Regions from separate parts of the Homo sapiens genome. Here region 2 is linked to region 1. Evidence: fine-mapped expression QTL. A gene starts in region 1. The other region holds a variant in brackets. All regions are shown on one strand. Distances are from middle to middle.

Region 1 (5,361 bases):
CTCCCTATCTTCGATCCTCTCTTATTTAATTTTTGAATGTCTGTCTGTGGCTCTAGAATTCCAGGAAAACGGGACTGGAGTCGTTAAATCACGGCCTCCCCAGGGTCCGCCACGGGGCCCGACCCATCCGGAAGGGAAGCGCCATCAACTTTGCAGAATGAATGAAGCGCTGGAAAAGCTGGTTCATTCATTCGGCAAACGAGAGAGCAGGGTCGTCCACCTCCCCCGCTGCCCCTCCAGCCCGGCCGAGGGTGGCTCGGGGGTCGCTTCGCTCCAGCCTTAGGCCCAAGTCGCGACCCCGGGAGGAGCGAGGGTGCAGGGGACGCCCGGGTCCGGCGAGCGGGGTAGTCGGTACCTGCGGGGGGCTTCATGGCGGGTGGGTCTGCGCCTGCGGCTCCCTCCCTCCTTCCACCTGCTACGCGTCCAGCCACCTCGGCCACTGAGGCCGCCTGCCTCGGCCCAACCGCCGCCACCGCCGCCACGGCCGCCTGAGGACCAAGGGGCCCGCCGCCCGCGCTCCCGGGGCATGCTGGGGCGGCGCGCGCACAGGGAGGGCAGGACGCACGCGCCCCTGAGCCCCGCCCACAGCTAAAGGAGGAGGGCCGGGAGTGCGCTGGAGCCCTCTGCGCACTCGCCGTAACCCTCCCGGTCCGTTATTGGTCTCGGCGGTGCGTGGGCGGAGCCTCTTGCTCTACCATTCCAGAGCCGCTGGGGTGGCTAGGACGGACGGTTTCCTTGGAAACCGCGCACGCCGCTGACGCCTCTGAGCCTCTGCGCGGCTCATTGCGCTGAGACTTCGCTTGGGCTTCAGGCTACCGCGTTAATGTGTACTTGCCTCGCTTCTTATAGCTGTGTGTTGGGCCAGTGTTATTATTGATCGCTTACTGTATATCCCAGGCCCACTTTCCAGCATCTGAATCCGACGAATCAATTAAATTAACCAGAAGTTTTGGTGCTTTGGTTGTTTTTGAGACGGAGTCTCGCTCTGTCGCCCAGGCTGGAGTGCAGTAGCAGCAATCTCGGCTCACTGCAACCTCCGCCTCCCTGGTTCAAGTAATTTTCCTGCCTCAGCCTTTCCAGGAGCTGGGACTACAGGCGCCAGCCCCCACCCCGGCTAATTTTTGTATTTTTAGTAAAGAGGGGGTTTCACCATGTTGGCCAGGATGGTCTTGATCTCTTGACCTCGTGATCCGCCCGCCTCGGCCTCCCAAAGTGCTGGGATTACAGGTGTGAGCCACCGCGCCGGGCCAAGTTTTTTTTTTTTTTTTTTTTTTTGTCAGAAACAAAAGCAAGTAAACGGATTCATGTCAAATAACAGGTGTTGTGGAACAGTGCAGTAGCCTGACCTACATGCAGTGTTGTGGGTTAAAACAAAAAACATCTTGAACCATCTGTCTTGAACTGTTAGGGCACCCAGAAAAAACAATGTACTACAATTAAACTGGCAAAAACCAAAACAACCGACCTCCTTTCTTCCCTTTTTTTGTTTTTGTTTTGTTTTCTTTTGCTTTGGAGGGGCTGGAGGGAGTCTCGCTCAGTCGCCCAGGCTGGAGTGCAATGGCGCGATCTCGGCTCGCTGCAACCTCTGCCTCTCGGGTTCAAGCGATTCTCCTGTCTCAGCGTCCCGAGTAGCTGGGACTACAAATGCCCGCACCACGCCCGGCTAATTTTTGCATTTTTAGTAGATACAGGGTTTCACCGTGTTGGCCAGGCTGGTCTCGAACTCCTGACATCAAGTGATCTGCCCCCTGGCCTCCCAAAGTGCTGGGATTACAGGCGTGAGCCACCACGGCCGGCCTCACCTCCTTTATTTCTGCAAAAGAAATTAAAATAATCCACGCCATTAATCGTGCATGTATTTTGAGTAGGACGAAAATGAATTGGGAGAACATTTCTGGCAACTGTAACTTAGATGGTGATCAGTTTTCTGTCGTCCTTGGAAATGTCTCATCACATGTCTTGAGCAACACCAAGATTAATTTTACATCGGCGTTCATTTTCGCTGTTCCCTGTGCCTGGGGTCCGTTTGGACTTTCCTATCCTTGAAATCCAAATGTAAAGGATGATCTTTCCTACCCATCCCATGCGACTTAGCTCCCAGTGACAATCACACTACCTTCATTTTTTTTTTCTTAGTGTTTGCTGTGAAATTTGTTTCTCTATTTATGTACTAGTTTATTAGTTTATAGTCCGTCTACCCCAATGCAAAATAATGAGAGTAGACACTTTGCTGGTTTTTATGGCTGCTTTGCAATAAATATTGAATGAATATTAGGCACCTGCTGTCTACAAATGGCTCTATACTCACAAACGTCTCACACTGCATGAAAGAATGCATTTGTGGGTGAGTAGATGGGTGGGTGAATAAATGAACAAAGATAGTAAGCGGGTAACACTGACTCCCATTCATTGCGCAGCTGTGACGCTCTGGAGTCCAGGTGTCCAAACGCGGCTGCACCACGTGGCCGGCCCAGCACCACGTGGTCAGCTCGGCGACCGGCTGGAGTCAGCCACTGTTCCACCGTGCACCGCTTCATTCCCGCTCTAGAGGGCAAACCAGACCCGATTTCCGGCCTCCATTAGGTCGCAGAGGTCAGTTGCCCTAACAACCAGCTGGTTCCCGCCTCTACGTTGCGTCACTTCCTTCCACGCCCGCCTCCATCATTAACGCGCCTGTGCAGAAGGGAAGCAACTCCGGGCGCCTTTCTTTTGCGCAGGCGTCGCGCCCTGGGGCCGGGGCCGGGCGGCACCGCGGTGCGCAAGCGCAACCGTCGGTGGGTCGGGGATCGGTCGCCTGAGAGGTGAGTGAGGGGCACTGCGCTGAGCCTGGTGGGTCTGGGGTCTGCGGCTCGGGGCCCACGGGGCCCCAAAGCTCGTAAGAGTTTGGGGATCGTGAGGCCAGGGTCACCGCGACCCGCGGGGTCCTGTGAGTAGGCGGTGCGGAGGGGAAACTGAGGCCGGGCGCCATCGGGCAGGCCCTTCGAGCCCTGATCTCCCTTCCCCAGGCCCCAGGTCCTGGAAATGCTGGTCCGCGGCCTGGTGGCGAGGACGGCGGGAGGGGAAGGCGCCCCGCATGTAGTGAGCGCTCGCTGGGTGTTCGCTGCCGTTCCGCTCTTATTAACCGCCTGGAAACGTCGTCCCTGTGACTCAGGGACCCCCGTTTGTGGGGACTGAAGTCGGAACTCTGGTTCCAGCGCCGCCAGTCCCTACCTGGGTGACCTTGCCCAGCCTCTTGGCTTCTCGGAGCCTCAGTTTTCCCCTCTGTAAAACGGGCGTTGTTCAAAAGTCCCTGCCTAGGAGAAGGAGAGCCGCAGGGTCCAGCGGAATCTGAGAACTCCAAAGAATTAGCAGGCGTTCGTCTTATATCATGTTTAGAGTCTTCTTCTGCATATCGTGCTAGAGGTGGGGGAAATCTGGGATTCAGGACCGTCCACCACCACCTCCCACCCGCTGTGTAAACCTGGGTGAGTCGCCTTCCCTCTCTGAGCAAACTGTTCCTTCTTTCGCAAACGAGTTGTAAAAGCAGATGCCTCGGAGGGTCATTATGAGGATAAACCCACATTCAATTATTTGATCAGGTGCCTGGAACTTGATAAGAGAGAGCTGGCTTGAGAATAGCTGTTTTTGTTATTAGGTGCCAGAAAATTGCAGTGTAGTGTGCCCTTCAGAGGTTGAATGATTGTCCCATTTTCTTTTGTTTCTGTCTCTGATTATTCCTTTTGTCTGCCTTTTCCCTCCCTTGACCAGTGGTTCTCAACCAGGAACAATTCTGTGCCCCAGGGATTCTTGGTGACATTTGTGCTTGTCATGATTTGGGGGACCCCCTGGTTTGGAGTTGGTGGAGGCCAGGGTTGCTGCTCGGCACCCTGCAGTACCCAGGACGGCCTCACCCCAGAAAATGATCCAGCTTTAAATGTCAATAATGCTTTAAAAACCCTACCATACGGGCTGATGACCTGAGGTCAGGAGTTCAAGACCAGCCTAGCCAACGTGGTGAAACCCCGTCTCTACTGAAAATATGAAAATTAGCTGGGCATGGTGGTGTGCACCTGTAATCCCAGCTACTCAGGAGGCTGAGGCAGGAGAATCCCTTGAACCCAGGAGGCAGAGGTTGCAGTGACCCAACATCATGCCACTGCACTCCAGCCTGGGCGACAGAGCGAGACCCTGTCAAAAATAAAAAAAAAAAATCTACCCTAGATCAGTGATTCTTCACCAGCATGGGCAGCTGGGACTGTGTGGGCCCGGGAAATCGTGTACAAAGTTTTGTGTGTGCACCCAATTTCGTGCAGAGAGAAATGGGTACTTTGGAGTTTAGCTTCTCAAGTCAGACTGCCTGGGTTCAGAACTCCTCATTTTCATCCTCGGAGCTGGGTGGTCTCGGGTGGTCCCCATCTTTCCAAGCCTCAGTTTTTCTTCTGTGGAATGGGGATTATAATAGTAACCACCTCAGGTGTGTGAGGATTAAACCAGGCAAGGTATCAGCAAACTGACCAGAAGGCCAAATCCACCTCTGGCCTGTTTTTGTGAATGAAGGTTTGTAGGAACACAGCCACACTCCTTGGTTTATGCGTTACCTGTAGTTGATTTCGAGCTAAGAAGGCACAGTTGAACAGTTGCCATAGGGAACTTAACGCCTGCAGAGCTGAAGACAATCTGGCCCTTTTCAGAAAAACCTTTGCTGACCCCTAAAATAAGCTATCGCATGTACAGCACTTAACTGGGTGCCTGGAAAGCTGTAAGCACGCCAAGGATTTGAGCTGAGGTTTATAATTAAATCTTCCTAGAAGGGTGAATGATTCCAAATGCGGGTGAGCTCTGCCCCAGATTGGAGGATCCTTGAGAGCTGTCGTCTTACTCAATTCTACATTTTTTCTTTTTTATGCCAAGACCCAACAGTGGCTCTGGTAGGAAGTGCTCAGTACAGGCTGAAGGAACAAAGGGGTGGTTTGAGATAGGGTCTTGCTCTGTCGCCCAGGCTGGAGTGCAGTGGCACAATCTCTGCTCACTGCAGCCTCGACCTCCCAGGCTCAGGCCCTCCCACCTCAGCCTCCTGAGTAGCTGGGACTACAGGTATGCACTACTACACCCAGCTAATTTTTGTATTTTGTTTTAGAGATGGGGTTTCACTGTGTTGCCCAGGCTGGTCTCAAACTCCTGGGTTCAAGTGATCCTCCACCTTGGCCTCCAGAGTTCTGTGATTACAGGCGTGCCCCACTGCACCTGGCCCGTTTTCTCTTTTACTGAGGTGGAAACAGAGACCCAGAGAGAAATGGCCTCCCCAAGGAACGTGACCATGTGGCTGTGAATTTTTCAACAATCGCAGGCTTTCCTGAGTCCATAGGGTTTAGACGCTGCCAG
Region 2 (5,361 bases), 27 kb after region 1:
CCCCTTCCCCCTCAGCTGTCACTCCCCAACCCCTCTCCTATCCCCTGACAACCACGCATCCCCTTCCTGTCTCTGTGGATGGGCCTGTCCTGGACATTTCGTAGAAATGGGATCACACACTGCGTGAACTTTGGTGTCTGGCGTCTCTCACTGAGCGTGACGTCCTCAAGGTGCATGTGTGCTGGGGCCTGGGTCAGGGCCTCGCTCCTTTTCATGGCTGAGTAATATTCCAGTGTGGAGGGACCACGCTGTGCTGATCCACACATCTATCCATGGACATTTGGGCTGTTTCTACCTTTTGTCTGTTGTGAACGGTGCTGCTTGAGCACGGGTGTGCAATCGTCTGTGTGAATCCTGTTTTCGTTTCTCTTGGATATAAACTTCTGAGTGCACTCGCTGGCTCATAGGGTCACTCCCCAGTAAGCGCTGTGCGCACTGGGGAGCTGCTCACCTGTTTTCATGGTGAAATCTTTTTTTCTTTCTCCTTTTTTTTTTTTTGAGACAGAATCTTGCTCTGTCACCCAGGCTGGAGTGCAGTGGCAGAATCTTGGCTCACTGCAACCTCTGCCTCCCGGGATCAAGTGGGTCTTCCCAAGTAGCTGGAATTACAGGCATCCACCACCATGCCCGGCTGATTTTTGCATTTTTAGTAGAGATGGGGTTTCACCATGTTGGCCAGGCTGGTCTTGAACTCCTGACCTCAGGTGATCCACCCGCCTCAGCCTCCCAAAGTGCAGGGATGACAGGTGTGAGCCACCGCGGCTGGCCCACGGTCAAATCTTAAAGCATGGTTTCCCAGCCACAGCACCGTGGCCATTTGAGCTGGACCAGTTTCTGGAGCAGGGCCGTCCTGGGCACTGCAGGGTGCTGAGCACTGTCTCTAGCCTCCATCCACTCCATGCCAGGAGCACCCCCTGCCCCTGTCTTGGCGTAACCCAATCATGGCTGTTGCAAATGTCCGCTGCCATTGCAGGGGTCCTCTGGGGGCAGGATCACCCCCTGGCTGAGAACTACGCTCTTTAGGCCAAAGAAAGAGGGGTGTTCTGGGAAAGCAGGTGAAAGTCACAGGGTGGGTTTGGGCCCTGGAGGCCCACCAGGTGGTGAGAGAGAATCCTCTCCTGCAGGGGAAGGTGAAGGGCTGAGAGGGATTCTCTCCCGGGCCACTGCGAGGGCCTGCAGTGGGGGTGGCGGTCAGGCTGTCCCGGCTGCGAGTCACGCGCTCTCTCCTGCAGCATGTCCGGCATGATTTCGGGTGGCAACAACCCCTTGGGAACTCCCGGCACCAGCCCCTCGCAGAACGACCTGGCCAGCCTCATCCAGGCGTGAGTGGAACTGCTTCCAAGAGGACGGAGGACGTGGGCGGCGGGCAGGGCTCGCAGGCGGAAGGGAAGGAGGAGAGCGAAAGTGCTGCGTCCCCTGCTCCGAAGGGCCCAGCGTCCTCCAGCGAGGGGTCAGGCCTGTCTTTGGGGTGGAGGGCCCGAGGGGTCAGCTGGGGATGGACGGAGGCAGCAGGCAGCCTCCTGGCCCTGGCTGAGCCCCATGTGCCCTTCCCCGCAGGGGCCAGCAGTTTGCCCAGCAGATGCAGCAGCAGAACCCAGAGTTGATAGAGCAGCTCAGGAGCCAGATCCGGAGTCGGACGCCCAGCGCCAGCAACGACGACCAGCAGGAGTGACGCTGCGTGAGTGCATGGGGCCGGGGGCTGGGGGGTGGCCAGCAGGAGTGACACCACGTGAGTGCCTGGCAGTGAGGGCAGCCAGCAGGAGTGACGCCCGGGGGCTGTGGAGCCTGTCTGGACACTGGACAGCGAGTCCTGGGTGCATCCAGCTCAGAAGATCACCCTGAACCGCCCAGGCAGGTGGGGGCATCTCTGGGCATTGGGCCCCTTTCCAGGTGGCCACCAAGTCCTGCTCCCCACTCCTTTCCCATCTGTGGATCGGCGCTGGGTGGAGATTAGGGGAGAGCCACAGCTCCCTGGAAGGGCTGGTGTCTGGGGTCCCCCCTGCCTAAGGCCGCCTGCAGAAGCTCTTTGTTTCTGCAGTGTCGGGGCTGCCACCTCGGGGGTGGGGGCGAGGTCATCGAGTGGTGGAAAGGACAAGCCGGGTACCTGCCTTTGACTGCGCCCGAGCGTTCTGCCTGCATTTTGTGAGGGATTTTTTGTCCTTTTCTCACTGTGAGCAGGTGTTGCACTTACAGTTGTTTAAAAATACACTCAGTGTCCCCCATGGGTTCCAGGGGCCCGTGGCTGGCTTGGTTTCCTTCCCCAGGGGCCCCTGAGTTCAGTCCTGTCCGTCTCCAGCAGACACCGGCTTCCCAGGGGTGGGAGGCTCCCCTGAGTTCAGTCCTGTCTGTCTCCAGCAGACGCCGGCTCCCTGGGGGCGGGAGGCTCCGGGCCTCCCCAGAGGTGTTTCCATTCTGCTCCCATGTGGCCTCTTCATTTTGTCGTTGTCCCCTCCTCATATACACTCTCTTTCATTTTTAAACCATAATTACTGTAGACAAATTTAAAATACAAAAATGTTAAAAAGCAGCAAGAACAATCTTAATCTTTTTTTTTTTTTTTTGAGACCGTCCTGCTCTGTCCCCCCGGCTGGAGGGCAGTGGTGCAGTCACGTCTCACTGCAGCCTCAACCTCCTGGGCTCAAGCGATCCTCCCGCCTCGGCCTCCCAAAGTGTGAGCCGTGCATTCAGCCCAACCTTAATCTTCTCACCCAGAGCCACCAACATTAATATTTTGGCCGCCTTTTCTTCCAGTCTTCCCTTTTTTTTTTAAATAAGCTTTTATTTATTTTTCCTTTTCTTTTTTTAATAGTTGAGGTGGATTTTTTACCACCGTAACCTCATACACAAAGTACCACCATACTGTAGACCCTTCTAGGTCATGGCGATGTTCTCTGCGCCACCAGCCACACGTGGCCCCGAGTGTGTGGAACGCTTCTGGTGCAGCTGTGGCTCTGACGTTCGTTGAAATAGCCGCTGTGGCCCCTGGCTGTCCACTCTGGGCCTCTCCTGCTGCCTGGAGTGTGTGGTGCAGCCTTGGTCCCCACCTGCGCTCTGACAGCCTTCATGTCTGTCC[C/T]CTTCCAGCTGCTCCCGGTGTGACCGCGTCCTTCCCTGGCCGACCCGAAGGAAGCCTTCTGGTTGTCTGCCACTTCCTCCTGTTGGACTGCCTGAGAGAGGGGAAGAGAGAGACCTCGGACCTGCATGTCAAGATGGATTTTCCCCTTTTATCTCTGCCCTCCTCCACTCCCTTTTTGTAACTCCCTTACAGCCCCCAGACCCTTCTTGAAACGAGAGCCAGCAAGCTGAGCACAGACCAGCAGCGACCTCCCTTCCAGCCCCCAGAAAGCTCGGTCACTTGAGTGTTTTCTAGAATCCTGGGGTGCTCCCGGGCCGCTCTCAGAGAAGTGGCAGGTTTCACGTTCAGCCGTGTGGCGGATCGTGTGGCTTCCAAAGCCTTTTACAGCCCCCGCCCCCCATCCCGTGGTCTGTCTGCAGGAACTCTCCCGTCTGTGAGAAGCCTCTTTCCGAGTCGACCTCCCGGCCACCCCGGCCCTGTGCCTGCTCGGAAGAGCTCACTGCCAGCTGCGGCCTGGGCACCGCGGGCCATGTGTGTTTGCATGAGGAACTCTTTAGTGGCAGACACCTAAGAGACGGCTGCGGTCACCCCACGCCTCCGCGGCTCAGGAGCCGTCCTGGGTGCATAGGACCAGTTTCTGTGACTTTTCTCCAGTTGGGCATGTTGACAGACATGTTTCCCCTCCTCCCACCCTCATTTTCTGGTCCTCGCGACTGAGAGCCAGGGGCGACATCATGACCTTCTGTCCCGGCCGCCTTAGCCCCGGGCACAGGGAAGGCAGCTGGGCCGTTTCTGTCTGTGTCCCATCCTGCTGTCCTTCTGTCCTGGATGTTTCATGGGCCCGGGGCCCCCCAGGGAAGCTTACCCCTCCTGTGCTGGGTGGAGGCCACGGGACACCTCAGGTGCCACCCACCTTGGCCCTAAAACAGCCACCAGGAAAGCAGCCGGAGAGCCGGACAGCAGGCAGCCTGTCTGGGTTCCTGAGGCCTGGGGGTGGCAGACGAGCCCACGGCGCCGTGGTCCCAGCAGCAGGGTTGTCAGTCGGAGCATCCTGGGGCTCCCTGGCTCCTGGCCGTCTGTGAGGTAGGCGCAGTACCGTGTATCGTAGGTAGCAGTAGGAACGGGGGCCGCCGCGGCCCTGCAGCCGCTCATGGCGGTGAGGTGTGTGCCAAGCCCACCCGGGGTGCAGGGCGTGACGTGTGGGGAATAAATAGGCGTTGTGACCTCTGTCTGTCTTCGTGTTGACCTTGGCGCCACCGATACCCTCCAACCCCAAACCTCGAGAAAACCCCCGACGCGGAGTTTGTGGATCAGCTGGGCTGCTTGTGAGTGAATCCCCGCGACGCCGGAGCCGCACTTCTTGGGTCACGGGTCACGGGTCATGGGAGGTTTCGGACAGTCAGCCTCTACCCTCTGCTGTCTCCCTTCCCTCCGCCTCCGTCCCCAGCTGCATCCCGGTGTAGAGGGTCACCCCAGGGTGGGGTGAGATGCCTCGGTCCTCAGCAGAGAGTGATCGTATTGTCTGTTGCTTTGCTTTGCTTTTTTTTTTTTTTTGAGACTTTCACCCTAGATGCCCAGGCTGGAGTGCAATGGCGCAATCTCGGCTCACCTCAACCTCCACCTCCCGGGTTCAAGTGATTCTCCTGCGTCAGCCTTCCAAGTAGCTGGGATTACAGGCATGCACCACCACGCCCAGCTAATTTTTTGTATTTGTAGTAGAGACGAGGTTTCTCCATGTTGGTCAGGCTGGTCTCAAACTCCCAACCTCAGGTGATTTGCCTCAGCCTTCCAAAGTGCAGGGATTACAGGCGTGAGCCACCGCACCTGGCTTTGTCTGTTGCTTTTCTAGCATACTGTAACTCCATAAATTCTGTATTCTGTAACCAAAGGCACCTCCCTTTCACAACGGCTCCAGTTGAGAGAATGGGTCAGTGAGGGAGTCCCAGGCAAGAAGGAGCCCAGAAAGCTTCCAGGCCCATCTCAGCCCCAACCCTAGGGTGCTGCACAGAGTTTTGTTGTGAACATAGAAGCTGCTCCCTTGGCCAGGTGTGGTGGCTCAAGCCTGTCATCCCAGGACTTTGGGAGGCTGAGGCGGGTGGATCACTTGAGGTCAGGAGTTCAAGACCAGCCTGGCCAACATGATGAAACTCCATCTCTACTACAAATACAAAAAAAGATTGGCGGGCATGGTGGCAGGTGCCTGTAATCCCAGCTACTCAGGAGGCAGAGGCAGGAGAATCGCTGGAACCCAGGAGACGGAGGTTGCTGTGAGCTGAGATAGCACCATT

Evidence for each region. PIP is the estimated chance that this variant, and not a neighbour inherited with it, causes the effect. A credible set is the group of variants that fine-mapping cannot tell apart.
Region 2: its variant is the best candidate, but not a certain one, in a credible set for the expression of SGTA in whole blood (TOPMed, PIP 0.86).

The regions. Positions count from the first base shown.
Region 1 is chr19:2,780,673-2,786,033 of GRCh38, reverse strand. It overlaps SGTA (small glutamine rich tetratricopeptide repeat co-chaperone alpha), which reads left to right and starts at 2,761. Exons shown (of 12, transcript NM_003021.4): 1 at 2,761-2,801. THOP1 (thimet oligopeptidase 1) reads right to left here and starts at 531. Exons shown (of 13, transcript NM_003249.5): 1 at 356-531. The coding sequence starts at 371. RefSeq lists silencers at 245-704, 735-844, 2,790-2,839 and enhancers at 2,330-2,399, 3,896-3,995.
Region 2 is chr19:2,753,654-2,759,014 of GRCh38, reverse strand. SGTA (small glutamine rich tetratricopeptide repeat co-chaperone alpha) reads left to right here. Exons shown (of 12, transcript NM_003021.4): 10 at 1,233-1,322; 11 at 1,558-1,678; 12 at 3,082-4,300. The coding sequence ends at 1,672. Among named protein-coding and RNA genes, the nearest start is that of SLC39A3, 16 kb to the right of the region's middle. The variant C/T (reference allele first, on the strand shown) is at 3,074.